Linked DNA regions of Homo sapiens. The protein of the gene in region 1 purifies or fractionates together with the protein of each later gene. This does not show direct contact. Each region holds a gene or a part of one and is shown on either strand. Other genes may lie near its edges. The genes, in order: PDPK1, SERPINA4, GPC4 and AGRN.

Region 1 (6,692 bases):
ACAGGTGGTGGTGGTGGCCCTGTGTCCTGAGCAGCTCCGAGGGGCCGCCCAGCCCTCTAGGCTCCAGGAGATGCCGTCAGCACTGGCCTCTGAGGCCTGTTGTTTTGTGTTTTGGCGTCAGGGTTTATTTGCAAGACGACGACAGCTGTTGCTCACAGAAGGACCACATTTATATTATGTGGATCCTGTCAACAAAGTTCTGAAAGGTGAAATTCCTTGGTCACAAGAACTTCGACCAGAGGCCAAGAATTTTAAAACTTTCTTTGTCCACACGGTGAGTCTGTTCCCAGGGATTTCTGTGTGCAGGGTAATGGGAGGGCTTTGCACCACGTGGGAAGCAGCCACAGGCCTTGGCCAGAGGGAGCAGCGGGGATCGGGGCAGCTGCCTCGCCCTTTCCGACATCCCAGACGCCCACACTAGTGGCTCAGTCCTGAGGGGGCAGGGGACACCCTGTGCTTGTTTTTCAGTTTGGTGGTGACTGGGGGTGGTGGTCATCAGCCTGTGTAGTTGCTTACTGCTTGTGTGAATAACCGTCACACCCACGTGCTTTCAGGACTCGGAATGGCTGGTCGCAGGCAGCTCACCAGGTTGGGGTGGGGGTTTTGGTGGGACTCCCTGGAGAACACTAAACGGCTTCTGTCTTCGCAGCCTAACAGGACGTATTATCTGATGGACCCCAGCGGGAACGCACACAAGTGGTGCAGGAAGATCCAGGAGGTTTGGAGGCAGCGATACCAGAGCCACCCGGACGCCGCTGTGCAGTGACGTGGCCTGCGGCCGGGCTGCCCTTCGCTGCCAGGACACCTGCCCCAGCGCGGCTTGGCCGCCATCCGGGACGCTTCCAGACCACCTGCCAGCCATCACAAGGGGAACGCAGAGGCGGAAACCTTGCAGCATTTTTATTTAAAAGAAAAGAAGAAAAAAAACACCCAACCACACAAAGAACAAAACCAGTAACAAACACAAAGGAATTCAGGGTCGCTTTGCTTGCTCTCTGTGCTCCGTGGAGGCCTCCGTGTGCCCTCGTTGCCGTGGGGACCCAGCTCCATGCACGTCAACCCAGTCCCGCCCAGACTAGTGGACAGACCTGGTGTCACCAGTTTTTCCTAGCATCAGTCCGAACCATGCGCCCGCCCTGCCCCAACTGTGTGCTGGTCCTGCTGTGGCCGAGGGGACCGGGTGTGTTTGGCTCTTTATGCCCCTCCCGCTGTGGTCCTGGAACTCTTCACCAGGGAGGGAGCCCTGCGGGGGCCGCAGCTTTGTGGAGGGAGCCGCCGTGCTTCTGTCACCTGCTCCCTTTCTTGCGTCTCCCTGTGATGGGCCCTTAGGCCTGGCTGGGCCCATTACATATCCCTGTGGTGGCTCTGGTGGCAGCTTTCTGTGGCCCCTGCTGTGTTGGCAGGCAGGTTTGCGTGGTGAGGAGCGGGAGGGGTTGGAGTGGTGCGGGAGCAGGCTGCCGAGTGGAGGGTGCCATCGAGGGCTCCGGATCCCTTATCCTACTTAGCAGTGTTGGTCTCTGGGGCTGGAAGCCGAGCGCATGCTGGGAGCGGTACTGTCAGAAGTGAGCCCAGTTAGTACCCCGCTGGCTCACTGCACGAGAGAGTCCTGCCCCGAGCCCTAGGTGGGGCCAGGAGGTGCCTTGGAGAAGCCAGCCAGAGCAGAGAGGGCTGCTGACTTCCGTGTGGAGCAGAGAGGCCTGAGGGCCTCCTAAAAGGTTTAAATGTCCACGCCTCTCCAGTTGCTGAAGTAGGGTCTGAGAGAACCCTGGCATCAGCAGACCCAGGGTGCTTCTGTCTCCTGCAGACCACGCCAGGGAGTGCAGACACCACCGTCACACACGCCCCTTTTGTGTTTTGGTTCAAGTTTCTCAGAGCCCCTCAGAGCTTCTACATCTGTGCATCAGAAATCTCACAGCCTTCTCATGCTGCCGGCTCATCTGGGCCCATAGAGTGGGCTTTGCCAGTTGCTGTTGCACAGGAGGCGAGAACAGCACACTTCAACCCCAGCTTGCTGGTCGGCTTTCCTCTAGAGAGAGCCGGTTTTGGGGCCATTTCCCTTTGATGCTTTGGTGGCCTTGCCCCGCTCTGCAGCACAGACAGGCCAGATGCATTTGTCCTTTGCCTAGCTACTCCCCAGGTAGAGAGTGCTCCTGGTGGCCTGGCAGGTCTGGGCCCTTCTCTCCCTGCCCAGGTTGTCCCTGGAGGGCAGCCCTCACTCCCTTTGGGGGAGAGGCAGACATTGCTGCCCACAGACCTGCCTCTGACTCAACTGTGTCCACCCTCCCTGGTCCCTACCCCCAAGTCACAGGTGACTCAGCAGTGACCCTGTGTGCCAGGCCAGATCCAAACTGAGAGGGAAGGTGTCGTTTTTACACTGCTAATGACGAGAGTGGCTCTTTTTAGCTAGGCGAGTACAGACGGGGCCTGGGAGGGGGCAGAGATGTTCCCCAGGCCCTGCCTGTGGTTCCTGCCTGGGCCTTGGCTGCTGCTGTGTGAGAGCTGCATGTGAGCCTGTGACCGTGAGCTGGGGTGAGCTGGGCCGCACCTACCCTGGGGCCCCAGGGAGCAGGACGCTCCGGGGCCCAGCACGTTGCCCTGGGCCTGTGGCCGGAGTCGGAGTCCTCTCTCCTCCTCCTGGCTTTTGGAAAGGCTTGGCTGTGTTGGGGAGTCTCTCTTAGCCCTTTCAGGAATTTCTGTTCAGGCTTCCTCCTCCTCATCAGCTATTTTACCCATCTCAGAACGTCCTGTGTCTCCATGTAGGAGAGTGGCTCTCTCAGATCTCTCAGGGCGTCTGGTTATAGGGAAACAAGTGGAGCAGGGACGTGGCTTTAATTGGAGCACTCGGCTGGGCTGCTTGGGGAGACTCTTCCGTGCGTTCTTCCTCTGGATAGAACCACCACCTCCTGGGCGTCACTGACAAGCTCCATCTTAACCTCCAAAGCCACAGAACTAGGGGCTCAGAGCCAGAGCTGGCAGCCGCCAGCCAAAATGATGCCATTGCCTGAGCTGACAGCCAAGCCCTTCTGTGGGTCACCTTTCTCCTCACCCAGCCCCTTGCTCTTCCCTTTTGAAAGGCCCGTGTGTTTTCTTTCCTTACCCTGTGCTTGCTCATGTCTACTCCGGTTTTCTCTACCACATCCTTAGAGCCATCACCTGGCACGCAGGCGCCTTACATTCTACGGTAGAACGTGGGGTACTGTGTGTGCACATAGACACACTTACGTGGAATTACAGTTGTGGGTTTATCCAAGATGAGGAAGATTTCACCTGCTGTTTAATAGACTTGGGGCCATGTGCCTCCCCACACATGGGCAAGGACAGGTGGAATGTCGGGACCACACTGTGCGGCTTCTCGGCACAAAGCGGAGGGAGGCTGTGGTCGCTGCCGGCCTAGGTGTCCCAGGTGCCCCGCCTTTCTCTGGGACACAGTTGGGGGCTGGCTTCTGAGGGATTCCTTTCTCCCCTCTTTGTGTGGCCCCAGCCAGGGCGGTGGGCAGTCCTGGTGTAGAGCACAAGCCTCTCCACCCTAGAGAAATGCCTCTGTACCACGGCTACCATGTGGAACCTTAACTTGCAGAAGGCTTGTTAACAATTGTTTTGAGAGAGATGGCTGGTCATGCCACAGCTGCTGGGGACTCCGCCTACTCCAGCCCTCTTGGGACACACTGTGGGATTTGTGGCCCTTCCCCAGAGGAATTGTGGAGACTGTCCCATGGAACAAACCCTCAGGCACCAGCACAGGGCTCTGGGTGACTCAGTAAAACTAACGTTTGTCTCTGACAAGATCAGCTGTAGGCTCACCGGCCAGAGAAGACCACTGTGAGCATTTTGCCGTATATCCTGCCCTGCCATTTGTTCACTTTTTAAACTAAAATAGGAACATCCGACACACACCGTTTGCATCGTCTTCTCCCTTGATATTTTAAGCATTTTCCCATGTCATGAGTTTCTCAGAAACATGTTTTTAACAATTGTACTATTTAGTCATTGTCCATTTACTATAATTTATCTGACCATTTCCCTACTGTAAAATACTTAAGACGGTTTCTGATTTTTCCACTATTTAAATAATGCTGTGATGAATATCTTTAAAATCTTCTGATTTCTTACTTTTTTCCCCCTTAGATGCCTGGAAGTGGTATTTTGAGGTGAAAGAGTTTGTTCATTTTGAAGATATTTCTGTCTCTCTCTCGACCTGATGTGTAGACGCTCACTTCCAGTAGCAGAACCACCTTAGTTGTGTCTTACAGATTCTGAACAAATCGGTTTCTGATAAGCCATGTGTTCCAAAGAATGTCTGAATAAGACCGCTCTTTATTTAAATGCTAAGAGGATGTCACTACTGCAATCCATCTGTGGCCGATTTTTTCCAAGAGCCAATTTCCTTGTTTTGGTTGCAAGAACCTGGCTCTGCCTGCATGTCAGCTCTCTGCCCTCCCTGCTGCCGTGGCTTTCAAGCGCTTGGCAGAATCTTGTACTTCGTGTCCACAATGGTACTGAATTTGCATCTGCACAGTCAGCAGAGATAACAAGTGTTGAACTGACCTTGCCACATGCTTAGTGAGTGATTTGTAATTAAGTTTATAGACTCAGAAGGTATATTAGGACATTTGGAATCAGTAGCAGAGCAAAGCCTCTTTGAAAAAAACCACGTAGCTGATTGGGTTTTACAAGAGTGCATTTGTCTCCCCCTTCCACCCGTGGGGCCCCACCTTCAGGTCTTAGTGGTTCACAAGAGCCCAGCAGCCAGGCTGGCTTTTTCATTGTAGGGCGTGGTTGTCCCAGCTGGTGTAGATTTCAGGCCGCCCCCCCCAACTCCCTGCCCACAGTGTTGCAGATTGCCTGGCTGGCAGCAAGTCCAGACCACCCAAATTTGGTTGGATTCTTCATTTCTCCACTGTAGTTGGGGTCCATTGATTGTGCAGGGGAACGTGCAGGAGGTTTTTCTAGGCACCGTGTTCAGTGCTGCTTCACTCTACCAGAGATTATGGCCAAATTGCACGGAATTTGGTTTCTTGCCCTCTGAAGCCTGAGGGCCCCCCCTTGCCTGGCTGGTTGACAGACCCGGGGTGGTCACTGCTGAGACTTCAGAGATCGCAGCTGCTGTGAGAATACGGTGAAGGTACTTTGTTCTGGAAGATGTTGTCATACACTTTTCCCCAGTTATTTTCAAACTTGACATGAGCCTATGTTGACTCACTGGGTGGGGGTCCCTTCTTACGCAGCACACGTGGCAAGTGCCTGAATCGGGGCTGGAGGCACTTCAGAGCCTCTGAGGGGCCACCACTTCTGGCCCAAAATTGCAGGGTTGTAGATGAGGCTGCCTGTGGAGAACTGGTGTGAGGAGGAAGCTGTTTCCAACAAAGAGCACTTTCATCTGTTGAGATGGCTGTGGTGAGCAACTGAACGAGCCTACGTGTGTACCTGAATTTTCCCCGTAACTCATTTCTTCCATATGAAGAAACACCAAACTATGTACAGAGAACTTTTTACAAAAGGCAGACCTTTTTTAAGCTGTGTAACCCACATAGCCTAACCACCTGGCAGAATGACTACGAATAGGGGTCATTGTGCTGGTAAAAGCCTCTATTACGACTGTAAGTAAGTTGGATGTTGGCAAAATTAAATTGTTACAGTATTTAGAGCTGCTGTAGCTGTTCCTTCACAACATAAAATAGGATAAATGACTAGTACGTCTTTCAGGTGGGTGGCAAGCAGAACATGCGTAATATTCTCTACCTGGTCTGTAGCTGTAACTGTGATGTACAGACAAAGCAAAAATTAAAAGAACTTATGAAAACAAATGCAATGATACTAGGATATACACTTTTGTATTTTTATTCTTATATAAGGTTATTTGCTGGCTATTGTTGGCCTCTAGTTCAGTCTGTGTTATTTAAATTCTAATATATGAATTATTTGAATTGAATTCATGTTCGGGGCCACGTTGTTGTATGTATTGATGTACAGCCTTGAATGTGAATAATTATTGTAAACTATATTTTACAACTTTTTTTCTGGCTTTATTATATAAATTTTCTATTGGGTCAGTGATTTAATCATATAATTTAATGAATCTGTTTATCCTTTTTTTTTTTCCAAATACTTGTGCTTTAGGTGTAGTTACCAGATGATGAATTTTCCTCGTATGGTCAGTAGTCTTGTAATAAAAAGCATGTAGAGTGTAGAGGTTTGCTGGCGTGGCTCTTCCTTTGACCCCGCCACGGAGTGGGGGCGCGGTTGGGGGCGGGTGTCTGCCATTGCCCGCTAGCGTTGGCGCCCCAAGCTCGGTTTCACTCCCTCCGGAAGTGGGACCAGCCGGCTGCTTTTCCCGGATGGAACTTCCGCCTGCCATGTGACCGGCGGGTGTTCTACAAGGGCTGACCAGTGGGCGGGACAGAACGCAAAGGGCGATATTAAAAGCCGGACTCTTCCGGTGAAGCGGAGGTGTGGTGGGGCTTGCTGGGATCATGGCGGGGAATCACTGCGAGCTCCTGCCGCTGGCCCGTGGCAGGCTCGGGGCGGGGTTGGGGTGGCTTCTTGTGCCTCCCTTAAAGCGCGGGGCTCAGCGTCCTGGCCCAGCGCCCCAGCAGCAGGTCCAAGTGGGTCCGGCTCTACAGCGGCGGCACCTACTTCCTCACCACTGGGCAGACGCCGCTGTGTCAGGACCCGAAATCCTTCCTGTACCTCTT
Region 2 (7,838 bases), on another chromosome or scaffold:
TTGCACTGTTGGTAGAGGCTGAGCTCAGATATGAATCCAGCAATTCAACTAATGATCACTGGCTATAATGCATTTTATACATTATTTTTATGAAGAAAATATGTCTAAAGATAGGAAGGAATGGAAACCTCAATACTACAGAGTCTTCAACATACAACATTCTCACATTGCATTCCCTGAGGGTTGCTCAACCCTATCAGACACAACGTTTTTACTTACATTTTTGTAAAAATATATTTAACCAGTCAACAAATTAGTGGGTTGGAGGCGGTGGTGTGGATTTAGCATATACCAATGATCTGACTCTCACCTTTGAAGTAAATGTAATTCACCAGCACCATCAAGACGTCCTTCTTGAGCTCACTGACCAAATCCACAATCTTCCCTCGAGTTTCCTTCTTGACGTGGTCGTTGATAAGCTGGATTGTGCCCACAGTGTCGTAGAAGTTGGTGTGGAAGAGTTTAGCCTCATAGACGGCCATGGTGTCATTCAGGAATTTTGCAAGGAACTTCAGGTTGTGGCTCAGGAACAGAGCACTGCCCACGCGTGTTTCCAGCCCATGGCCGGGGAGGTTGAGAGTGTGCAGGAGGTGCTGGAAGCCCCTATGGACATCGGACTCAGACAGCTCGGTGAGGTTGAAGCCCAGGCCCTCAAGGATCTGGCTGCGGCTGTGTGAGCAGGCCCCCAGGGAAAGCATGGCGTAGGCCGCCGAGATGCTCAGCGGGGAGAAAAAGATGTTCTTCCCCGGGGTCTCCGAAGCGATCAGGTAGTAGAAGCGGAAGGCAAAGTCAGCATTGGCAGGGGCTATCTTGAGGCTGGGGGAGCCCTCACCTGTCTCCAGAATCTGCTGGTGGGAGCTGTTACTGCAACTCTCACCATCATGCTCAACGTGCAGCTGGCCATGAGAAAGGGCCAGTAGTCCAACCAGCAGGAGGAGCAGGTAGTCGATAAGATGCATCCTCTGCACTCTCAGGCCTATGGGAGGGAAGAGAATGCCCAGGAAATTCCCCCAGAAGAACACCTGGCCCTACTGAGAAGGCTGGCAGTGGGCCAGCACCCGGAGATCGTGAGTGACACCCTCAACTCCTGCAGATGGGCTTGTGAAAGGCAATGTAACACCCACCACCTTCCACATGTATGGTGACAGCAACACTATTGGATGGCAATGTTTTAGACTTACAAGGCACACTCCTTGTGTCCATCATGTCATTGTGTTTCCCACCTGTGTGAGCTCTGCACAGCACTAGACTCCATTCTCACCCAACAGAGCAGGAAATGAAGACTCCCAAAGTGACTCACCCAAGTCACCTACCTAGCACATATCCCAGCCAGAACCCACATCCCCAGACTCAGGTGCTGCTTCTCCCACACTTGTCTTTCAGATGAGTTGATTTCATTAGTGCAGTGATTTTGCATGGAGGATGGCTATCCTCAGAGTTTATTTTAGGGTCTGTTCCACAAACATCTGTGGAGTGCTTTATATGGTTTACAAACCACTTTCAGCCATTTAGTTTGACCCTCCCACCCCTGTAGAGGTCAGTAGAACTGGTCTTTGTATTGTTACCCCGTACAGACAAGGACATGGATGTTTAATAAGTGACCTGCCCAAAGTTGTGGGGATAGAATTGGTACCCGTTTCATAATGAACATCTGTCCAAGAAAGGATACTCCAGTTTCTCCCCCAAATCTGCTCCTGCCCCATCAAATGGTCCCACCAGTATCCGGTTGTCAGGCCAAAAAGCTTCTAGGCTTCTATCCACCCAAAATCCATTTAATCCACTTCCATGACCTGCAGGGTTGGGTTTTTTTTGTTTGTTTGGTTGTTTGTTTGTTTGTTTGAGACAGGGTCTCACTCTGTCACCCAAGCTGGAGTGCAGTGGTGTAATCATGGCTCACTGCAGCCTTGACTTCCTGAGCTCAGGTGATCCTCCCACTTCACCCTTCCAAGTAGCTGGAACTACAGGCATGCACCCTTCCAAGTAGCTGGAACTACAGGCATGCACAGCCACACCCAGCTAATTTTTTATAGAGTTGGGGTCTCACCATGCTGCCCAAGCTGGTCTCCAACTCCTAGACTCTCCTGTAGGTTCTTCAGCCTCTCGCCCCCTCTTTTGCTATGATCCTCAACCAGGGCTCAGAAAACTTTTTCTGCAAAGCGCCAGATAGTAATATCTGTGGTTTTGCAGACCACACAGTCTCTGCTGCCACTACCCAACTCTGCTGTGGCAGCTGGAAACAGCCACAGACCGGACATGCATGAAGAGGCGTGGCTGTGTTTCAGTGAAACTTCACTTACGGACACTGAAATGTGAATTTCATATTATTTTCCTGTGTCACAAAATGTTGTTCTTCTATTGATTTTTCATAGCTTTATATATTTATCTTTTATACTTATCACTTATATTTTATATTTATATTTTACATCTTGCATTCTTAGCTCATGGGCGGTGGGCCGGATTTGACCTACAAGCTGTGGTTTGTTGACCCCTGACCTAGACCCTTGCAGAAAGCTTCCTAGTCTTTCTGCTCTCTGTTCTCCACTCAGCAGTTGGAGGGATCATTTAGAAACATACATAGGACCGCATCACTCACAGACACACCTCCCCTCCGGCATGAGCTCCCCAAGATCACCTGGATTGGCAGCCAGAAGACCTTGGCCCTCAGTCAGTGCCGCCCTGTACCAGCTGTGTGTCCCTGGGGGAGGCTTTTCTGGGTCTCCGGGCATAGTCACCCACCAGTGCCCATGGACCCTAAGTCGGGGCCTTTCTAGCCTGAGTATTTCTCACCTCTAGCAAGAGTGACAAAGTGTCCCAGCTTGCCTGGGACTTTCCTGGTTTTAGCACTGAAAATATATCCCAGAAGAATTATCAGTCTTGGGCAAAGTGGAACAGTTGGTCACCCTCCCTCTAGAGTCTCTCGTCTCCATTGTCTCAGGGGGTTACTCACGGCACAGTCTGTCCTGGAGTGGACCCCCTGGGTGGCTGTCTCAGCTCTGTCTTATCAAGCCCAGGAGGACTGGTCAAACCAGGCCTTCTCAGTACCACCCACTCTCTCCCGACCAGGTAATTATTAACAAACAGGCTACGGGTGCAGCATTGCCTCAACAAGGAAAACTCACCAGAAGTTGGTTCACCCCCTCCCAAGAAGACACCCCACTTCCCACCTGGGGAACCCCAAGAGGGTTCACTTCTTCATGTTTGTGCAGTGCATGGAGGTTCGCCTGGCCCTTGCTGCTCCCCGAGGGCCCGGGGAACCACTTGGAAAATCTGGTCTCCAACCAGCCCCTCACTAGCTGTGTGAAGTTGAGCTCATTTACTCCCTCTCTGAGCTTCAGTCGCCCACCTCCCTCCTACAACATGAGGGGCTGGATCAGACAGGGGGCAGCAAGCTCCAGCGCCGCCTTCCTAGATCAGGTAAGGAAGACTCCATGGTGCCACGGTGGGGAATGGTGGGGATGTGTGGAAGTGAGAGAGCCAGCTCTCTACAGGCCAGGCAAGACCCACCTGTGGGCAGGGCCTCACAGCAGGGCCTCCAGTTTGCAATCCTGGACTCTGTGATTTCTGAGGATAGAGTCCACTGAGATCTCATAGGTCAGACCATAAGGAGAGTACATCCCAGGGCAAGGGTGGCATGGGGTGGGACCAGGAACCTCCTTGGGCCAGGTATTCAATTTGCATTTTTCTTCTTTAACCATGGAATTGAACTTGTTCTCTCCCCAGTAATCAGTGAACCCCTGCACCCTTGCACCCTTGCACCCTCCTGGGGCAGCCATTTCTCAAGCTATGTGGGGAAGGACTGCAGGGAGCAATGTGGCCCTGGGTGCCCTGACTGAGATGACCTTGACCATTCAGGCATCCTCTAGCAGACTTTCTGGATGTGTTTCCAAGTCGTTGGGCCTTAAGGTAAGTGAAATATACACCACTGAGCAGCACAGTGGGCTGGGAGCCCTGAGCGATGTAGACATGGGGATGGCAGAGCAGGCACAAGCACAGCCCTGGAGCCAGCTGGCCTGAGGTCCAAAATGGGTCAACACCAGGACAAGAGAGGAAGCTAGCAGGTCAGGCAAAGTGAGAGCTACTGTCTCAGTGGATTCTCGCTTTCCCTCACTCATCTCTCTCTTTCCCTTGCCTATACACTCTAGGTATACTAAGCTTGGCCCATTTTACACATGAGAAAATGTAAGCCCGGAGACATTGTTAGCTCAGATTCCAGAGTCAGGGTCTGCTCCGTGGCCACTGAACATGAAGCCCATATTCCTTCCCAGCATCTGCTGCTTCTCCACTTGGACAGACTTTTCCTGCCACCGGAATAGCAGCTGCTGCTTTGCTTACTGCTGTACCACGCGCTAGAGCAGAATGTGGTGCAGGGGACATGCTCCATGGATGTTGACTGAGTAAGTCAATGAGTGAAAGATGGCCATGGATTTTTGCTCTGATGAATGTGAAAATACATTATTCCCCTTACAATGGTCTACAGTCTGGGGTTTTGCTTTTTTAGTCTTGCTTCTTCAGTGAGTTTGGGGCTGATGCCACAGATTCCAGGGGTTAGCGTATGCTTGGCTGCAGCCCAGGGGATGGACAGCTTGTCCCTGCCATGAGCACACAGTCACTGCCCTTTAGTTTCTGGCGCCTGCCCCTGGTATGTTCTGGACAGAGGCTGGGCTTTGGCGTCAGACAAGCTCCCTCACTGCTGAGATTTGTGACTTTGGGCAAGTCACTCCACCTCTCTGAACCTCAGTTTTTCACGTGTCAAATGAGAAGCAATAATCACTAATCAGAAAACTGATATTAAGGGCAGGGGGGCAGCACTCTTAAATGTTCTGAGCCCTGTATCAGTCTTAATGGGTGCTTCCTTCTTCCCTTCCCATCCCAGCAGTGGTGGACAGCCAGACTGTCTGGGTTGAATCTAGACTCCACCACTACTTAAGTTACTTAACTCTGCCTCAGTGTCTTCATCTGTAAACTGTGGGTAATAATTGCCCCTAAATCTCAGGGTTGTCAACAAGATCAGTAAACTGACATCTGTAAAGTCCTAGAATAGCATCTGGCCATAGTGAGTGCAGTGGAAGCGTGAGTTAGTCTGTCGTATTATTTCAGATGGGTTGTACATTACTCATTTATCCCCAAAGGTGTACACATGGCTGAAACCATGTTGTTAAACTTGTTTTGAGTTGTGGTCCTGATTATCTCAAGAAAGCTTTGAACTCTCCCTGAAATATGCACAGATGTATGTTTTACAATTTAGGGAGATTCTTGAATCCCATGAAGTCCATGCAGTCCCCGTGGGCTACAGCAGTTATTTTTTCCTGCAAAGAGCAGGCCCATATAAAGGAAAGGTGGAAAGAACTCTCAGGCATGTAGTGGGAGCTACTGACTTGGACCCTGCAGGAGAAGGAGGGAATGACGGCAATTGGTGTGGCTGCAGGCTGGGCTCAGTTGCTAACTCCAGCCTCAGTCCTGCCTGCTTCTTGTCTTAAGGTCTCTGGGAGGGCTTCAGGATTGTTGAACCCTTGCCTGTTACAATTTGAAGGCCAAGTGTTTCTTGTTAATCATCTGTAAGGTCCCAGAGGACAATGAATTGTGCCACAGTCATATCTGGGCACATTAGAACAGGCCTGGCCTATAGAAGATGCTTAACAGAAGTCAGTCATTGAATGAATGAATGAATGAATGAATGAATGAATGAAGAGATGCCAAAGGCCCTGCTCAGAGGTGCTGCTCAGATGTTCCAGTGGCAAGCTCCTAAAATCTGCAACACTCTCGGCAAGTACTGATTTAAGGAAGCAGGGATAAGTTGCCTGACCAGGAAGGCCAGGGTGGATGTGGGGAAGCAGAGGGCTTGACTGCCTCTCTGCCCCTAGGAAATACCACTGGGCCAGATGGGGCAGCTGCTGTGACACCACTGATGTCCCCGGCAGGGAGCCGCTTTTTCCAGCATCCCAGAAACTGCCTGAACTGTGCTGTAGGCATGAATCCCACTCCCTGACACCCTCCTCTGCTCCACTGCATCCTAAATTGCAACCCAGCCCTTTCTCAATGGCTGTCTTGGTCTCCCATTCCAGCACAGGCTCCACTTATGCTGCCCTCCTGCTAACTGCTCCCAATCCCCTTCCCATTCCCTGGATTCCAAATGGAGCCAGGAAATTAATCTGCCCTTAAAAAGGCTGTCCTTGTTTTGAATTTGATTGGCAATGCAATAATGGTCATCATGAAAAATATGGGAAAGTAAAAAAAACCTGGAGAAGAAAATAAAATCATTTGCAAACCTGGTGTTCAGCTTATGACTAGATATAATTGGTTTCCTTCCAGTCTTGTAAGAAATGGGTATGTGCTCATACAGAACAGCAACAACAAAGCTCTTCCAGTCTTGGTTTGGATGGAGGTAGGAAGACTATAGATGCTACAGTCCAAAGAGAGCTCCATGCAAAAATTCCAGAGTAGGTGGTCAAGAACAGGTCTCCTGATTCTTAAATGCTTTACTCATGTGAAAGAGGACTGAAAGGTGTTGAGAGGTGGAGACTGAGAAGGAATTACAAAGAGGAAGGAGAGAAGTGCTTCCCCCATGTTATCTTAAGAGTGCAGAGCTTCAACAAAACACTCATGCAACACAATATGTATCCCTGGAGTTAGAGGGGCTCAGGGCTTGATGCTTGCCTGGAAATGCTAAAAGGTGTAGGTGGGCTGTTTAGCCTCTCTAGGAACTCTACGTCTAATTATCTGTCCCTCTCTTAAACTCATCATTTTCTATCTGGCTTTTAGATACATAGTTACACAGGATACACATACATCCTACTTATGTATAGCTGGGAAACAAGCCACCCCAAATTTAGCGGCATAAAACAATGGCAGTTGTTTGTCATTATTATTGCTATCTCTACAGTTCTGGGGGTTGACTGGGCTCAGCTGGGTGGTTTTTGCTCAGGGTCTCTTATGAGGTTGCAGTTGGACAGGAACTGAGACTAGAGTCATCTTCAAAGTGGATATGCTTTCAGACTACCACATATGATGTCCCTGCTGGACTATGGGTTTTTAGGAAGCAAGCACAGTGTTTTATTCCTTTTTCTTCCTGAATTTGTGTCCTTCCCTCTAACTTTCACAGCTTAGCACATTGCTTAGCACAGAACAAGTCCTATGTTAGGGTCAGTTGAATAAAAAACAATAATTAGACTTCATTCAGGATCATCCTGGTGGATGGGAGGCAAGACTAGATTGCAGCTCTGACTTGGATAGACAGAGCAGCATGCGGAGGCTTGCATGGTGAATTTTAGTGTCAGAATGACTTCAAGAACAAACCAGGAATCCTGAGAGGACACACAGACCCTCTGAAGGAAGTGGACTGCTTCTGCAGGACCCAGGAGATCCCCCAAATACTGTGAGTACCCAAACTGCGGAAATGGGAAAGGGAGACCTTCTGCTATGAAACACACACCCCCACTGGGGAAAATGAAGGTGTAGTTTGTGGGAGAAGTTTCTGACCTTACCTGGAGCTGAGTCGATTTAGAGAGCCAAGCGAAATACAGGGGTAGAGGAAGCAGGGGGAAAGGCCCTGGGAGCTTGCTGGATCTCAAGCAGGCCATTCCTGCATGGCACCACAGGAGCCCTTTGGGAGGGTGGCCAGAGGTGTGGGGCAAAATGCCACAGGGAGAAGGAAGTCTCCAGCTGAAATTTGTAACAATTTGAACAGGGCAAGAAGCTTGCTGGCCAGAACTTGGGGAAGGGTGCGAATCCAGTGTGCCGACTCCACAGGTAGGGGAAGAACCAAAGCCCTATTCTTTCGCAGTTGGGAGGTGAGTAACCTGGGGCAAGTTCCCAAGACCTGCTCGCCCACTGCCTGGAAA
Region 3 (7,952 bases), on another chromosome or scaffold:
TAGGCAATAGGCATGCAAATAAAAATAAAGCCTAAGGCCAGGCGTGGTGGCTCAAGCCTGTAATCCCAGCACTTTGGGAAGCCTAGATGGGCAGATTGCTTGAGTCCAAGAGTTTGAGACCAGCCTGGGCAACATGGCAAAACCCTGTCTCTACAAAAATATAAAAATTAGTGCAGTGGTGTGTACCTGTGATCCCAGCCACTTGGGAGGCTGAGGTGGGACCATTGCTTGAGCCTGGTAGACGGAGGTTGCAGTAAGCCGAGATTGCACCACTGCACTTCAGCCTGGGCAACAGAGCAAGGCTCTGTCTCAAAAATAAATAAATAAATAAATAAATAAATAAATAAAGCAAGGCTAGAAGACATCTTGGAGGCTGGTAGTGGAGGAACTCTCAAAGAAAATGTGGCCTCTGCTAAGGAGCAAGTGTTGTAGTCATTTTATGCAGACAGTGCTTTGGAGGCCTAAAAGGAGGAGGAGGGGCTAGCTCTGCTTGGAGGAATCCAGGAAAGCTTTCCAGAAGATGTGACTTCTCAGCTGAGTCTTGAAGGATGAGTATGAAAGAATTGTCCAGGAAATGGAGGGGAATGAAAGGATAGCATAAGAAGGGGCAGGGTACAGGTAGAGAAATCCATGCAGGACGGAGAATGATGACACATTCTTGTGGGGCCAGAGCACAGGATACAGGATAGGGAAGGGCCAGTAAGAAAGTTGGAAATGTAGCCTGAGCAAAATGGTGACACCCTGTCTCTACAAAATACAAAAAAAAAAAAAAAATTAGCTGGGCATGGTGGCATGTGTCTGTAGTCCCAGCTACTCGGGAGGCTGAGCTGGGAGGATCGCTTGAGCCCAGGAAGGTGGAAGCTATACTCTAGCCTAGGCGACAGAGCCTGCATCAAAAAAAAAAAAAAAGAAAAAAGAAAAAGAAAAAAAGGTGGGGGGGCAGGCACAGTGGTTCGCACCTATAATCCTAACACTTTGGGAAGCCGAGGTGGGAGGATCACTTGAGCCTGGGAGTTCAAGACCAGCCTGGGCAACATGACAAAACGTCTCTACAAAAATCAGCCAGAAGGACATTGTCCAGAAGATGTTGTCAAAGCCTCACTCTGATGGCTGTGTGGGGAATGGGCTGGATACAGGGAAAGACTAGAGGGCTGCAGGCCAACATCTTACCCTAACTAAGGGAGGGAGCTCCCTTCCTTCCTTCTTTTCTTCCCTCCCTTCCCTTCCCCTCCCCTTCCCTCCCCTCCCCTCCCCTCTCCTCTCCTCTCTTCCCTTCTCTCTTTCCTGAAACACGGTCTCATGCTGTCACCCAGGCTGTGGTGCAGTGGCGTGATCACAGTTTACTTCAGCCTCTACCTCCCAGGCTCAAGCAATCCTCCTGCCTCAGCCTCCCAAGTAGCTGGGACCACAGGTGTGCACCACCATGCCTGGATACTTTTTATTTTGTTGTAGAGACAGTCTCACTATGTTGCCTAGGCTGGTCTTGAACTCCTAGGCTCAAGCAATCCCCTTGCCTCGGCCTCCTAACAGATATGAGCCACTGTGTCCAGGCTTGGTTCTTCCCAGCCCCATATTTGGAAATCAGGGTAGCTCCCCAGCAGGCCATGAGAAGTGTCCTCAAAGCTGAGAGAGTAGACCTGGCTCAACCAGTTCTCTTGGATTGGAGGACAGAAGCATGGGAATGCATTCTTTGTTCTCTCTGCCCACCAGCAAATGTACCCTCCCCCTCCCAGTGTCATATCAGGGGAAACTCCTGACCTGGGAAAAACAAGTATACCATTAGTGCATTCTATCTAAGCAAGCCTTTGCACACCGTTTATAAAACTGTAAACTCCTTTTGGCTTATACATCTTCCCTTCCTCTAGGACTGAACATTGTCAGGCACATAGGAGGTGTTCAATGAACATTTATCAATCTAAAACAAAGATACTTCCACAGGACCTTGGCAGTTGTACATTCACTGCTGACAGTAAAAGAGACCCAGAGCACTGTGTTCTCTGACCAACAACAACAACCACAACAAAAATAGCATGGGATTTGGTCAGAGGCCTTAGATTTCAGTCTTGGTTTAGCCACCCAAGAGCTCTGTGGCTGTGGAGAAGCCACAGAACCTTGCTGAGACTTGGTTTGCTTATCAATTAAAAACAAACAAACAAAAAACAAAATATTCTAAGATATGAGGGTGCACCTGGAAGCACTGTGCAAACTTGTAAAGTGCTATATGAACAAAATGTGGTATATCCGTAAATGGAACATTATTCAGTCATAAAAAGGAATGAAGTACTGATACATGTTACCATATGGATGGACCTTGAAAACATGATGCTAAGTGGAAGAAGTCAGACACAAAAGCCCTGTATTGTATGATTCCATTTCTACAAAATGTCTGGAACAGGCAAATCCATAGAGACAAAGCAAATTAGTGGTTTGTAGGGACTGGAAGGAGAAGAGAATGAACTTTGAGTGCTTAATGGGTATGTGGTCTCCTTTTGGAGTGATGAAAATGTTCTGTAACTAGTGGTGATGATTGTACATTATGATTGTACTAAATGCCACTGAAGTGTGCATTTCAAAATGGTTAAAATGATACCAAATTGCGTATGTGTGTGCTTTTTACCACAATTCTAAAAAGCAAAAAAAAAAAAAAGTTATATGACGGTTAATCAGCCTGAGAAGTCATCGATTTTTGCAGTCAACATGCAGTCTCTATTTTTTGGCGTTGAGAGAACTTACAAGGAGTAGGTGCATCTCCACTAAGAAGCCTCTTCTGAAGACAGCAGGGATGGGAGTGGGAGAGGGAAGAAGGAGTTCTGGCCCATCTGAAAAGAAAGCTTCCCTTCTGGATGGTATTTGTTTCGTAGATTGCCAGTTGTTCACCCTGTTTGTATTTAAATGAAAGGAGGCTTTGAAGTGGGAGCCGCCTCTGAGCACGGCTTGGGGTTCCTGCCTCCCTTGGTAAAGTTCAGACTTGTCCAGATCTGTTTGTAGCCAGAGGTTACTGTTTCTGGTGGAAAAGGCTCAAGTTTGGGTTAATAATACATTATGAGGAAGAGCAGGAGTAAACCTGGGGAGGGCGGGGGCGGCGGGGGGGAGCGGCGGCAACGAATGAGTTCCTCCCAGCCTTGGTGTGAGAAGTAGCTTTCTGATTTGGCCTTCATGGTTCAGGAGTATCATTTTCTCTCTTACGGTCACTGGCTTCCATTTTATAATAATGCTCGTTGCATCTCAGAGCATATTCTCCTTGGTGAAGAACATCTTTAAGTAAATGTATCAATCAATGAAAATTAAAAGTGCTCAGCTAAGCCCTAGCAATGCCTTCAGGACTTGATGGTTACCAGTTTAAGGAAAGTCTTGAAAATGGCAGGAAATTCAATTGTAGTTGAGTTTGCACATTAAAAAAATTGCTCTCCTAGTTTCAGAGTTAAATATTCAGCCAGCCCACAGAAATTGGAAGTCACAGTTATAGACGGGTCACAGTCTGTTCATGTTGATAGTCTGTTAACAAAATGTAGAAGAGTCTGCAAGCAGGTATTCAAAATAACAGCTCCTCATAGCCAGCCATGTCAACGTGGTTTACAAACAACAGTGGAGAAAGTCTCAACAAACCCTCTGAGGGTGATAACTGTAATGATGGTTCGTATCTTTGCCCTATGTAATTTTATGGGAATTGAGAGTCTAGCCAAATAATAAGTTCCAGCCCTTTTTATCTGCCCAGTTCCCAGCACACTCCCGAGGTGTCTGAGGCACTTCTCAACCCAACCTCTTAAAGCAGATTGTAACAATAACAACGGTAATGACAAGTTCCCGAGCTGCACAGTTCCCTTCATTTAAGGAGCGCTGGGAGCTTCAAAAAAACACTCATTAATGGAATCTGACAAAGCTTGCAAGATGGGAAGTCTCTCCCATTTCCAGTTTTCTGGTGGAAAAGTGGGGACTGAGTCCCAGAGGGGTGTCAGTCTCTCTCAAGGGGCTTGAGGGGGTAGGGGGTTTGGGAGTCCTGGGCTACCATTATTCCATGAAATTCGAGAGTCAAGAGTCCCGGGTTCTGGACGCCCCCTTCCCCGGCGTGCTATTTACCAAGTCGCTTCCCATTTCTGGGCCCCAGTTCCCTTAATAGAAGGAAGGGTTGGGCCAAATGGTCTCCAAGATCTCTGCGGTCAACCCTGTCTTTGCCCCCTCACCTCGCGGTTGGGGGTTTCTCCCGCTTCAGAGTTCGGTTAGACTTGTAGTAGAACCGGGTCGGGGGTGGGAGTGGCGTCGAGGGGTTGGAGTGTTGCGGATGCGGGAAGGAGGATGCCTGATGGGGTCCTGGACAAACTGGTGTTTCACGAGTACCGTCCTATGGGAAGCAGGTCTGGGGAGACCAGGTGAGGCTCTAGGACGAGCTCGGAGCCCCAAATCCCCCTGCTGCCTGCAGCGAAACAATGCGAGTAATGTGCCTTCCCCGCCCAGCCCGGGAGCTGCGCGGATAGGAGCGTCCGCGGGTGCGGGATGGCAGCGGGGAGGCGGATATCGCGGCGGGAGGGCTCCGCGCGGCTTTTGCCCATAGGCGGCGGGTCAGGTGGCCGCGCGCAAGAAGGCCTGGGGCTCAGACATGGGCTTCGGGACAAGTCCCAGGCCGTCCCGTTCCCCAGAACCTGGGCCCTTCAGCCCGGAGTAGTTGGCCTTCCCTTTGTGGTTGGGGGGCGGTGGGCTGGCTCCCCGCCTCCGAGGAGGAGGGGAGGAAGGAGGAGCCGGGTGGGGCGTGTCACGCGAAGGAGCGCCGGGCGCCCGGTGCGGCCCCCTAGGAAGTGGATTTGGCCGCTCCGGATCCAACCCGGCTTCCAGGTTTTCTCCCGGCCCGGCCCAGCGTGCTCCCGCCTGTCTCCGGCCCCCCCACGACGCCCGCCCCCTCCCCCCGAGTGCCGCCCGCTTGGCCAAGTTTGCGGAGCGTCGCCGCGCACGCCGGCCAGTCAATCAGCGGCAGAGCTGAGAAGGGCACAGCCGCGCGGCGGAGGGCAGAGTCAGCCGAGCCGAGTCCAGCCGGACGAGCGGACCAGCGCAGGGCAGCCCAAGCAGCGCGCAGCGAACGCCCGCCGCCGCCCACACCCTCTGCGGTCCCCGCGGCGCCTGCCACCCTTCCCTCCTTCCCCGCGTCCCCGCCTCGCCGGCCAGTCAGCTTGCCGGGTTCGCTGCCCCGCGAAACCCCGAGGTCACCAGCCCGCGCCTCTGCTTCCCTGGGCCGCGCGCCGCCTCCACGCCCTCCTTCTCCCCTGGCCCGGCGCCTGGCACCGGGGACCGTTGCCTGACGCGAGGCCCAGCTCTACTTTTCGCCCCGCGTCTCCTCCGCCTGCTCGCCTCTTCCACCAACTCCAACTCCTTCTCCCTCCAGCTCCACTCGCTAGTCCCCGACTCCGCCAGCCCTCGGCCCGCTGCCGTAGCGCCGCTTCCCGTCCGGTCCCAAAGGTGGGAACGCGTCCGCCCCGGCCCGCACCATGGCACGGTTCGGCTTGCCCGCGCTTCTCTGCACCCTGGCAGTGCTCAGCGCCGCGCTGCTGGCTGCCGAGCTCAAGTCGAAAAGTTGCTCGGAAGTGCGACGTCTTTACGTGTCCAAAGGCTTCAACAAGAACGATGCCCCCCTCCACGAGATCAACGGTAGGTGGGCACACCCGGGAGGTGGGCGCAGAGACCGACACTTCGGGAAGGGAGGCTGCAACTCCCTTCCCCCGCCCCGCCGCCCCCTGCGCCGGACGCAGGTACACTAGAGGGAGAAATGGGCAGTCGAGAGGGCAGGAGCGAGCGAGCGAGAGAGCCAGGCAGCCCGGGCGCAGGACGTTCCCCGCGGGCGCAGCGCTCCCCCCTTCCCAGCACTGCGAGCGGAGGGGCGCCGCCGGGTTGCCCAGTGCGACTGTCGCGCTCCGCTCCCCGCCTCCGCTCCTCCTCTCCCCCCTGCATTATTCGCCGTCCCGGGAAGCCCCTGAGGACTGTGGCCCTCAAAGTGCGTGTCACCGGCTACTTCTCCTTTTCCGGGTTGAACTCCTTATAGGACGCCCCGCTTTGTTGTATGGGTGAGGAGAGGCCGGGTGGGGGTGGGGGTCGCCAGTGGGGTGTGGTGGAGGGAAACGTCCCGGAGCTTGCTAGATTCTGGGGGTCGCAAAACGTGGAACTTGAATTGATGTTTCATTGATGTTCTTTTAAAACTCTCTCCCCGCCTCTCTTGCACCGCTGACAAGGATTAGGAGTTTTAGTAGCCGCAACCGCTTCAGAAGTCGCCTTTAAAAAGCAAACGACTACCCCCACTCTCCACCCCTCCAAACCCTGACTTTTGGGAACTCTCCTACTTTCCGGAAGGTATCAGACCAGAGGAGTATTTTTCCCCTCTTTCTTTTTTCTTACCTCATTTTAAGGGTTAATTGCACTTTCAATTACAGACCTTTGAAAGGACTGATTACAGGAAACCTGAATCTCAGTTTGGAGATGGTTATGCAAATAGAGACGGCTTAGCCTGTGAGAAAGTTCACCGGATTTTGGCGCCGGTGGGGTGGGATGGGGGGTGTATGGGGGTATTTGTGAAAGCCCCTCTCGGAGCGCTGGGGAGGCAGCGTTCGGCGGGTGCCCTGCGTCCCTCCCAGCGAAGCTGGCGGCGGTGTCCGGCCGGGTCCCCTCCGGGTCGCACTGTCTTCTTAGCAGCGGCCAACTGTTGCGCGCAGCCCCGCCGGCCGCGCAGGTAGCCCGTTCGCCCTGGGGGCTCAGAAAGCACCACGAATCTAGCTGGCTGGTGGCCAGCGTAATCTAACGGAGGAGTGAGAGATTCGAGCCCGGGGGGGGGGCTGAGCCTCCACTCCGAACCTTTCATGGAAGTGAGTGGAGCGCGCCTTTGCCTTGCCGTGCTGGTCTCCGGGTGGGGCGGGCAGGGGGCCGGCAGCCAGCAAAGGAAATACTGTAATTTCAACCAGGCGCTTCCAAAGGCTTAGGAAGATTTGGGGGTCATTTTTTGGAAGGGCTATTAATAACCTTGGAGATTAAGTGCAGTCATCAATTACATATTAATTACAAAGGTAATTGAGGGAAGTTGCTGGGCACTTTTGGAGTGTAACTGGCGTCTGTCTAGAAATAGAAGCGAAGAAATTGTTGGAGCAGCCCAGGCGCCCACTGCACCTTGGCAGTTACCAAATAACATGCTCACTACTGATTAGACACTGTTTGCCCTTCAGCTGCCTGTCTTTTGGGGAGCTCAAGTATGTCCTCAAAGCGGCACGATTTTATTGGTTGTAGAGCCCTGAAAAGCCCTCTTTCTTTCCCTTCCTCCTGCCCCGCCAGAAAAAAAATGAAGTGAACCACCAGCCGCTGAAGCTTGGGGACTCTGCAGGTCAAACCTGGGGTCTTTGTGCCCTGCACAGTTTAGGCCTGGGCACAGCGGAGATGATTGGCGTGAAGGTTACAGTTGTCATTCCCACATTTTGAAGGGGTAGATGCAGCTCTGCACTTAATGGGAATGTGACAAGGTTTCATCTTCTGCTCATGCAAACAATATGTGCCTTTGATATTGACTGCAGGCATTCAGCGAGTGGGGTTGTGAAACTGCCCTCCCCAGTTTCCCCAACTTTGCTCTGTGCAGTCTTTCGCTGTGGCAGGGCATCTTCCCCAGCCAGCATCTCAGGAAAAAGGAAGCTTGAAGGGTGCTCAGAGACTCTGTGCTAGGTGTTCCCTTTGATTGTCATCATCCCCAGAAATCACCTGAGGGATATTTTGCGTATATGTCTATCTGGACATTCCCCCATGCCAAAGATAGGGGAGTTATTAGTGACCAGCAGCAGGAAATGGAAGCTAATGTGCTCACACCCAAAACATTTTATTCTTTTTGTCTTGTCCTTCATCTCCCTCCCTGGGCTGCTGCTTTTATTTCCCCTTTTGAATGACCTACTGGACTGCATTCTCCTGAGGAACAAAGGAAGTGCCTTTTTAGCTGGAAT
Region 4 (7,024 bases), on another chromosome or scaffold:
ACCCTCCCAGTGGGCTGGGTCCTGGGGAGGAGACAGGTCTATGCAGGTCTATGCTGGTGGCTGGGGCCGGGCAGGGCCAGGGCAAGAACTGCGTTTCCACCACCTGTGAGCCAGAGGCCTGGAGCCAACTGGATTTAAAGAGGTGCTCAGGTGGGAGGTCCCCTCTCTTAGCATCCTCAGCCTCGTTTCCTGACACCCAGAAGGCTGGGGAGTGTCTCCTTTTCTTTACACACTGCCCCCTTCACCTGGCCACAGCCCACCCTGCCACAGAGTCACGGAGGGCTCCACACCAAGGCCATCGTGACCCACATGCCACCTAACTGTGGTCATAGTTACGGGCCAGAGCTCACAGCAGGGCTGGGGCATCCTCTCCATCCCCCAGCCTACCCAGGACCAGGAAGGGAGTTAAATATACCCGCTCCTATAAAAAGCACTGCCGCCTCCAGCGTTGCACACAGTGGGAGGACCCGTCACGCTGCGGGAGAGTGGGTGGGGAGGCCGAGTGGCCGGGGAGGGGCTCCTGCAGGAGGTGGAGCTAAGACAGGCGTGGCAGGACCCCCAAAAATGACCCATCGGGAACACAGGGCTCTCAGGGTCCTAGGTGTGTCACCTGCATCTATGAGGGGCCATGTGGGCAGGTGACCGGAGCACAGATGTGTCTGAGCCCAGTGCTGGCATTTCTAGCAGTGTGGCCTTGTCAGGTGGCCTACCTTCCTCCTGCCAGCTGGCAGGGGAGACATCTCGGGGCGTGGCTGCTGCAATGCGCTGTGCCTGGCGGGTACGTGCGTGTGTGCCATCACCACGTGCACCTGTCTTCAGGTGATCTCGTGTGGAGCCTCTATGATCCCCTAGGCCTGTGGAGACTCAGCACAGTGGTGGGAGCGGCCCCTCACCTAAGCCCGCAGTGTGAGCGGAGAATGGGGGGGTGGGGCTTCCCGGAGGCCGTGATTCCTGAGCTCACTCTTGAGGGGCAGATGTGTTTCCAGCCTGGATGGGGATAGGAGGGAGGGACCAGCACTGTGACCTTTAAACCCTGGGCTGGCCGGCAGTGTCACACCATCAAATGCTGTGAGGGAGATCCACCCCCACTCCACAGCTGGGGCCACATTCCAAGAGGAGCGGACTCTCTGAGGCCCTGGAGGCAGAGGGGAAGGGGCCAGGACCTGGCCCTGCACACCAGATGGGGATGGGGAGCCAGTGCTCAGCCTGGCTTCAAGGTCCCGCCAGGTACCCAAGGTCTCTCCACTGCCCTGCCACATTGGTCCAGCAGCTGGTCACTCAGAGCCTGTCCCTAAGGTACCTCTAGGCTCCCATCCCAGAGCTTGCTCTCCATGCCCCTGCAAGCAGTCCAGCCCCGCTCACCCTGGTGAGCTGCCATCATCACCTTCTTCCCCAAGGCTCTGTCTTGGGACGTAGCAGGACCTCGGGCTGGACTATGGAGGGAGCTGCGGGTCCTGGTGGATGAGGAGCATGCCCGCCATCCAGGAACAGTGCCCTTGGCCATGGTGTCAGGGCCTTGGGAGAGGTCTGGCTGAGCCAAGGTGACCAAAAGGGGAGAAAGGCTCAGGAGCCCTGGTGCAGGGAGGTGACTGGGTCCTTGGCCATGGGGTTGGGACCTGGGGGGAACCATTGGTCCACAGGTCCAGCCGAAGCCCAGGAGAACAGCTGGCTGGGCATCAGCAGGTGCCCGTTGGATTTGGACTGGGAGTCCCAGGGCCTTGGACAAGGCAGGGCCAAAGGGAGAGGGAGATGCTGAGGGGAGAGAGAAGGGGAACCAGAAGGGAAGTGAAAGGGCCAGGGGTGCATGTGGTTTGAGTTTGATTTGAGCCAGGACGGGGGAAGGCCAGTGGTGATGACAGCCCTCATGACTATACTTACAGTGGCAGCAGACGGGCCACATAGCGCTGTGTGCTGGGCACCCTCTAAGCTTTGCAGATACTGGCCCATTTAACCCCACAATCCTGGGAGGTAGGTCCTATTGCTCCTATTCACCGAAGGGGATACTGAGGCCCAGGCAGGTGATAACCTGCCCACATTCTCACAGTGGGTAATGCAGAGCTGAGCAGCCTGGCTGTAAGACCTGAGGTGGGAGAGTAGCAGAAGAGGGGTGGGGGCACAGCCAAGGTTTGGGGAGGAAGACAGGGATCTGGTGGGGGGAGCATGGGTAGGTTGCAGGGATGGCAGGCGGATGGCCCTCACTCAGCCTTCTGGGGTGGGGGCAGGGACACCCAGACAGACAGCGCCAGAGCCTGGGGTGGGCTGTTGCTATAGCAACAGCTGGCTCCAGCTCCCAGTGCACCCACCCTCCTTGGAGATGGGGGGGGTTCCTCCTGCCCCATTTCACGAGCCTGCTGGGAAGTGATGGGTGGTAGCCACCCCTCTGACATGACTTATTAATGATAATTGGACCCAATTAAACATTTATTAAATCCAGACAGCTGCAGCCGCTAACGGACCCTTCCCTGATCCTGGGTGGGCCATGCTGGGGGTGGGGGTGCTCAGGATGGGCTGCCGCAGGGGCTCTGGGTTTTAACGTGCCTGAGGCAGCTTTGTTGGCCACGTTGAGGTCTGGTGATGGGACGTGTGTCAGGCGCTGTGGTCTGCAGCTGTAAGAACTAAAATGAGCAACAGTTCCTGCACCTCTCCAAGAAGGAAGTTCGCTTTGACAGAGAGTGAGGGCGATGGAGGAGGCAAGAGTGAGGTGGGGGGCCGGGGGATGCCCAGGGAGGAGGGGGCGTGTGGGTGCCCCAGGGATCCCAGGGAGCGATGGGAGGCTGCAGAAGGGCACAGGCCTGCCGCGGGTGGGGGGCTGGCCAGGGAGAATAGGAGATAGTAGAGGCGGAGGCCAGGAATTTGCACTTCTCCAGGGAAGCTGGGGAAGAGTTGGGGAGAGGGAGGCAAGAAGATTCCCCACCCATCTTAGGCGCAGGGAGCGGTCAGGGAGGCGCCAGAGGTGGGCCAGAGCTGTGACCTGGCCTCACACCCCGTCCCGGTGGGGCTCTCAGGCCCCTGAGGGCCAGACGCGGGACCTGGGTGCGACCCGGGCGGGAGGCGGCAGGGCTCAGCTGTGCTGGACGCTGCAGCAGCGCGGGAAGGGGCTCCCCCGGCTCCATGGGGTGAATCGGTGAGGGGCTCCGGTGCCGATGTGGAAGGAGCTCCTGAGCAGAACTGGGGCCTGGACTGCTTGTGCCCGAGTTGGTTTCGAGGCGTCTCTGCTTTTCGCTGGAGGCCCACGAGGTGGGTGGGAAGTGGGTGCTCGCCCGTCGCAGAAACAGAGTCGGGTGCCGCCTGCGGCAGACGCCCCTCTCCGCGCCTGCAGGTGCGGGGTGGGGGAGAAAGGTCATCCCTGGAGAGGCCCGGGGCTGGCGGGAATCCTCGGCGGGCGGGGTCTGCGAGGGGCAGGGCCGGTCCTGTGAGCGCACGCACGCGTGTCCGTGTCCGTGGTGGACCCCCGATGCGGCGCGGGGGCGGGTGAATGCGCGGGCTGCGAGCACGGCAAGGTCTCTCAGGCTTGTGGACGTGGGTACGGGCGTCTCGGCACCCTGAGCTTTCTCCCCTACCCGCCCCAGCGTGCCGGGGAATGCTGTGCGGCTTCGGCGCCGTGTGCGAGCCCAACGCGGAGGGGCCGGGCCGGGCGTCCTGCGTCTGCAAGAAGAGCCCGTGCCCCAGCGTGGTGGCGCCTGTGTGTGGGTCGGACGCCTCCACCTACAGCAACGAATGCGAGCTGCAGCGGGCGCAGTGCAGCCAGCAGCGCCGCATCCGCCTGCTCAGCCGCGGGCCGTGCGGTGAGCGGGGCGGGGCCGGTGCCTGGGGCGGGGAGGGGCGGGGCCTATGAGATGGAGCGAGGCTGGGAGGGGCTTCGGGGCCAGTGGGGCGGGGGCAGGGGCGGGGCCCGGCGGGGAGGAGCGGGGCTGGGAGGGGCCTGGGGGGCGGAGCGGGGCGGGAGCGGGGGCGGGGCCTGCGGGGCCCGGCGGGGAGGAGCGGGGCTGGGAGGGGCCTGGGGGGCGGAGCGGGGCGGGAGCGGGGCGGGAGCGGGGGCGGGGGCGGCCCGTCTGACCGGCAAAGCCCCGCCCGCAGGCTCGCGGGACCCCTGCTCCAACGTGACCTGCAGCTTCGGCAGCACCTGTGCGCGCTCGGCCGACGGGCTGACGGCCTCGTGCCTGTGCCCCGCGACCTGCCGTGGCGCCCCCGAGGGGACCGTCTGCGGCAGCGACGGCGCCGACTACCCCGGCGAGTGCCAGCTCCTGCGCCGCGCCTGCGCCCGCCAGGAGAATGTCTTCAAGAAGTTCGACGGCCCTTGTGGTGAGCGCGGCGGCGGGCGCACGGCTCGAGCTCTGTGGGCGCGCGGCGACAGCGTCCTGACTCCTGCCCTCGACCCCCAGACCCCTGTCAGGGCGCCCTCCCTGACCCGAGCCGCAGCTGCCGTGTGAACCCGCGCACGCGGCGCCCTGAGATGCTCCTACGGCCCGAGAGCTGCCCTGCCCGGCAGGCGCCAGTGTGTGGGGACGACGGAGTCACCTACGAAAACGACTGTGTCATGGGCCGATCGGGGGCCGCCCGGGGTCTCCTCCTGCAGAAAGTGCGCTCCGGCCAGTGCCAGGGTCGAGGTGAGCGGCTCCCCCGGGGGAGGGCTCCGGCCAGTGCCAGGGTCGAGGTGGGCGGCTCCCCCGGGGGAGGGCTCCGGCCAGTGCCAGGGTCGAGGTGGGCGGCTCCCCCGGGGGAGGGCTGCGGCCAGTGCCAGGGTCGAGGTGGGCGGCTCCCCTCTGGGAGGGCCGCCTGCTCCCCTGCTCCCTGCACATCCCAGGGCAGGGATGGAGGGTGCTCCAGCCTCTCCGTGACTCCCTCACCCCTGCGTCCTAGACCAGTGCCCGGAGCCCTGCCGGTTCAATGCCGTGTGCCTGTCCCGCCGTGGCCGTCCCCGCTGCTCCTGCGACCGCGTCACCTGTGACGGGGCCTACAGGCCCGTGTGTGCCCAGGACGGGCGCACGTATGACAGTGATTGCTGGCGGCAGCAGGCTGAGTGCCGGCAGCAGCGTGCCATCCCCAGCAAGCACCAGGGCCCGTGTGGTGAGCGCCCCGGGGTGGAGGCCAGGCGGGGTGGGCTGCTCCTGCGTCAGTCCCTGCCTGGACATCACATGCCATCTTCATCCATCATGTTCCTCTTGGGGTCCTGGGAGTGGGCCGGTCCCTCTGGGAAGGCTCTGGGGAGGGTGGAGCCTGTGTGCGGAGGGTACCTGGATACCTGGGGGCTGGTGAGGCAGAGGCGGGGCCTTGTCCAGGCTCCCTGGTCCCTGACCTCAGCCACGCCCTCCCTGGGAGTCCTCTGGCCTGTCCGCATGTCTCCACGCTGTAAGCACAGGCTGTTGGGGTGGGCAGGCTGGACACAACACCAGGGTCCTCACTCTTGGGACATGGGCAGCCGTCGGCCGTTTTGGAGGCAGTGTCAGGACTTGAAGGGCCAGGGGGAGGCAGTGGCCGTCGTGTCCCGTCGTGTTCGTCTTGGTCAGTTCGCCCATCTTCTGGTCTTTCTCTCTGCGTCTGTCTCTTCTCTTTGGTCTCTTCTTCCCTGTCGGCTCCGCCTCTTGTGTCTTCCAGCCTGACCTGCTGGCAGGATGAGGTGCCGTGCCTGCCCTCCAGGAGCCCGCAGCCCGAGGTCTGCCCCTGGTGCGGCAGGGGGGGTGGCTTGCTGCTGCCTGGCCTTGTGGTCCTCAGAGCAAGTGGACAGACACCTCCTCCCCCGTGCAGCCCTGGGTGTGACTCTGGGGGTGCAGGCTCCTCCCACCCACAGAGAGCCCCCCCACATGCATGGGTGTCCTGGGGATGCTGGTGGTCAGGGGTCAGTGGCCTGGGCAGGCTGGGGAAGCCTGGCCCTCCCATAGCCTGCTGTGGACAATCAGGAAGCCCCAAGCTTGGGGGCAGCCTCGCCCGCAGCCACCGGGGACTCCTGGGTGTGTGTTCCGCTCGCCTCTGCCGCGTGTCTGTCCCTTTCTCTGCCGTGTCTGCTGTGCATCTGGCCCTTCTCCTGTGTTCTCTCTTCCTCCACCATCCCCTCCCTGGAAGAGGGACTGCTGCGTGGGGCTGGGGGCTTTGCCTGCAGCGGAGGGGGGGCTTGTGGGACCACTGAGCCCCTGTGTCCTTCCCAGACCAGGCCCCGTCCCCATGCCTCGGGGTGCAGTGTGCATTTGGGGCGACGTGTGCTGTGAAGAACGGGCAGGCAGCGTGTGAATGCCTGCAGGCGTGCTCGAGCCTCTACGATCCTGTGTGCGGCAGCGACGGCGTCACATACGGCAGCGCGTGCGAGCTGGAGGCCACGGCCTGTACCCTCGGGCGGGAGATCCAGGTGGCGCGCAAAGGACCCTGTGGTCAGTGGCGGGTGAGGGGTCTGGTGGGGGTCGGGGAGAGAGAGGTTCCTGGTCGCCTGGTGATGGAAGCTCCTCCCCAGACCGCTGCGGGCAGTGCCGCTTTGGAGCCCTGTGCGAGGCCGAGACCGGGCGCTGCGTGTGCCCCTCTGAATGCGTGGCTTTGGCCCAGCCCGTGTGTGGCTCCGACGGGCACACGTACCCCAGCGAGTGCATGCTGCACGTGCACGCCTGCACACACCAGATCAGCCTGCACGTGGCCTCAGCTGGACCCTGTGGTGAGTGAGGCCCTGGGGCCGGGCGGGCCAGGGTCCTGTGCCTCCCTCAGCCTGGGCCTGCCGACCCCTGCCTGGCTCTGTCTCCTGCAGAGACCTGTGGAGATGCCGTGTGTGCTTTTGGGGCTGTGTGCTCCGCAGGGCAGTGTGTGTGTCCCCGGTGTGAGCACCCCCCGCCCGGCCCCGTGTGTGGCAGCGACGGTGTCACCTACGGCAGTGCCTGCGAGCTACGGGAAGCCGCCTGCCTCCAGCAGACACAGATCGAGGAGGCCCGGGCAGGGCCGTGCGAGCAGGGTAGGCCGGGGGACGCTGGCGAAAACTGCTGGGCTCTGGCTTTGGACAAGAAGCCCCTGGGTGACTCTGCTCCCCTTCCCCGCAGCCGAGTGCGGT

The links.
Region 2: the proteins of PDPK1 (region 1) and SERPINA4 purify together in Homo sapiens (affinity purification with mass spectrometry; 3 studies listed by BioGRID and IntAct, with this or other methods). This does not show direct contact.
Region 3: the proteins of PDPK1 (region 1) and GPC4 purify together in Homo sapiens (affinity purification with mass spectrometry; 2 studies listed by BioGRID and IntAct, with this or other methods). This does not show direct contact.
Region 4: the proteins of PDPK1 (region 1) and AGRN purify together in Homo sapiens (affinity purification with mass spectrometry; 2 studies listed by BioGRID and IntAct, with this or other methods). This does not show direct contact.

The regions. Positions count from the first base shown.
Region 1 is NC_000016.10:2,597,002-2,603,693, forward strand, and holds the end of PDPK1 (3-phosphoinositide-dependent protein kinase 1), read left to right. Parts: intron 1-121; coding exon 122-274; intron 275-649; coding exon 650-766; 3' UTR 767-6,187; downstream 6,188-6,692. UniProt on the Homo sapiens protein: Serine/threonine kinase which acts as a master kinase, phosphorylating and activating a subgroup of the AGC family of protein kinases.
Region 2 is NC_000014.9:94,556,604-94,564,441, reverse strand, and holds the start of SERPINA4 (kallistatin isoform 2 precursor), read right to left. Parts: upstream 3,001-7,838; 5' UTR 2,948-3,000; exon of another isoform or gene 2,727-2,947; coding exon of another isoform or gene 2,633-2,726; intron 977-2,632; coding exon of another isoform or gene 960-976; coding exon 311-959; intron 1-310. UniProt on the Homo sapiens protein: Inhibits human amidolytic and kininogenase activities of tissue kallikrein.
Region 3 is NC_000023.11:133,412,488-133,420,439, reverse strand, and holds the start of GPC4 (glypican-4 precursor), read left to right. Parts: upstream 1-4,950; 5' UTR 4,951-5,474; coding exon 5,475-5,634; intron 5,635-7,952. UniProt on the Homo sapiens protein: Cell surface proteoglycan that bears heparan sulfate. May be involved in the development of kidney tubules and of the central nervous system.
Region 4 is NC_000001.11:1,037,096-1,044,119, forward strand, and holds part of AGRN (agrin isoform 2 precursor), read left to right. Parts: intron 1-3,569; coding exon 3,570-3,785; intron 3,786-4,077; coding exon 4,078-4,302; intron 4,303-4,382; coding exon 4,383-4,607; intron 4,608-4,680; exon of another isoform or gene 4,681-4,701; intron 4,702-4,860; coding exon 4,861-5,067; intron 5,068-5,081; exon of another isoform or gene 5,082-5,653; intron 5,654-6,143; coding exon 6,144-6,362; intron 6,363-6,442; coding exon 6,443-6,637; intron 6,638-6,727; coding exon 6,728-6,928; intron 6,929-7,013; coding exon 7,014-7,024. UniProt on the Homo sapiens protein: Isoform 1, isoform 4 and isoform 5: neuron-specific (z+) isoforms that contain C-terminal insertions of 8-19 AA are potent activators of AChR clustering.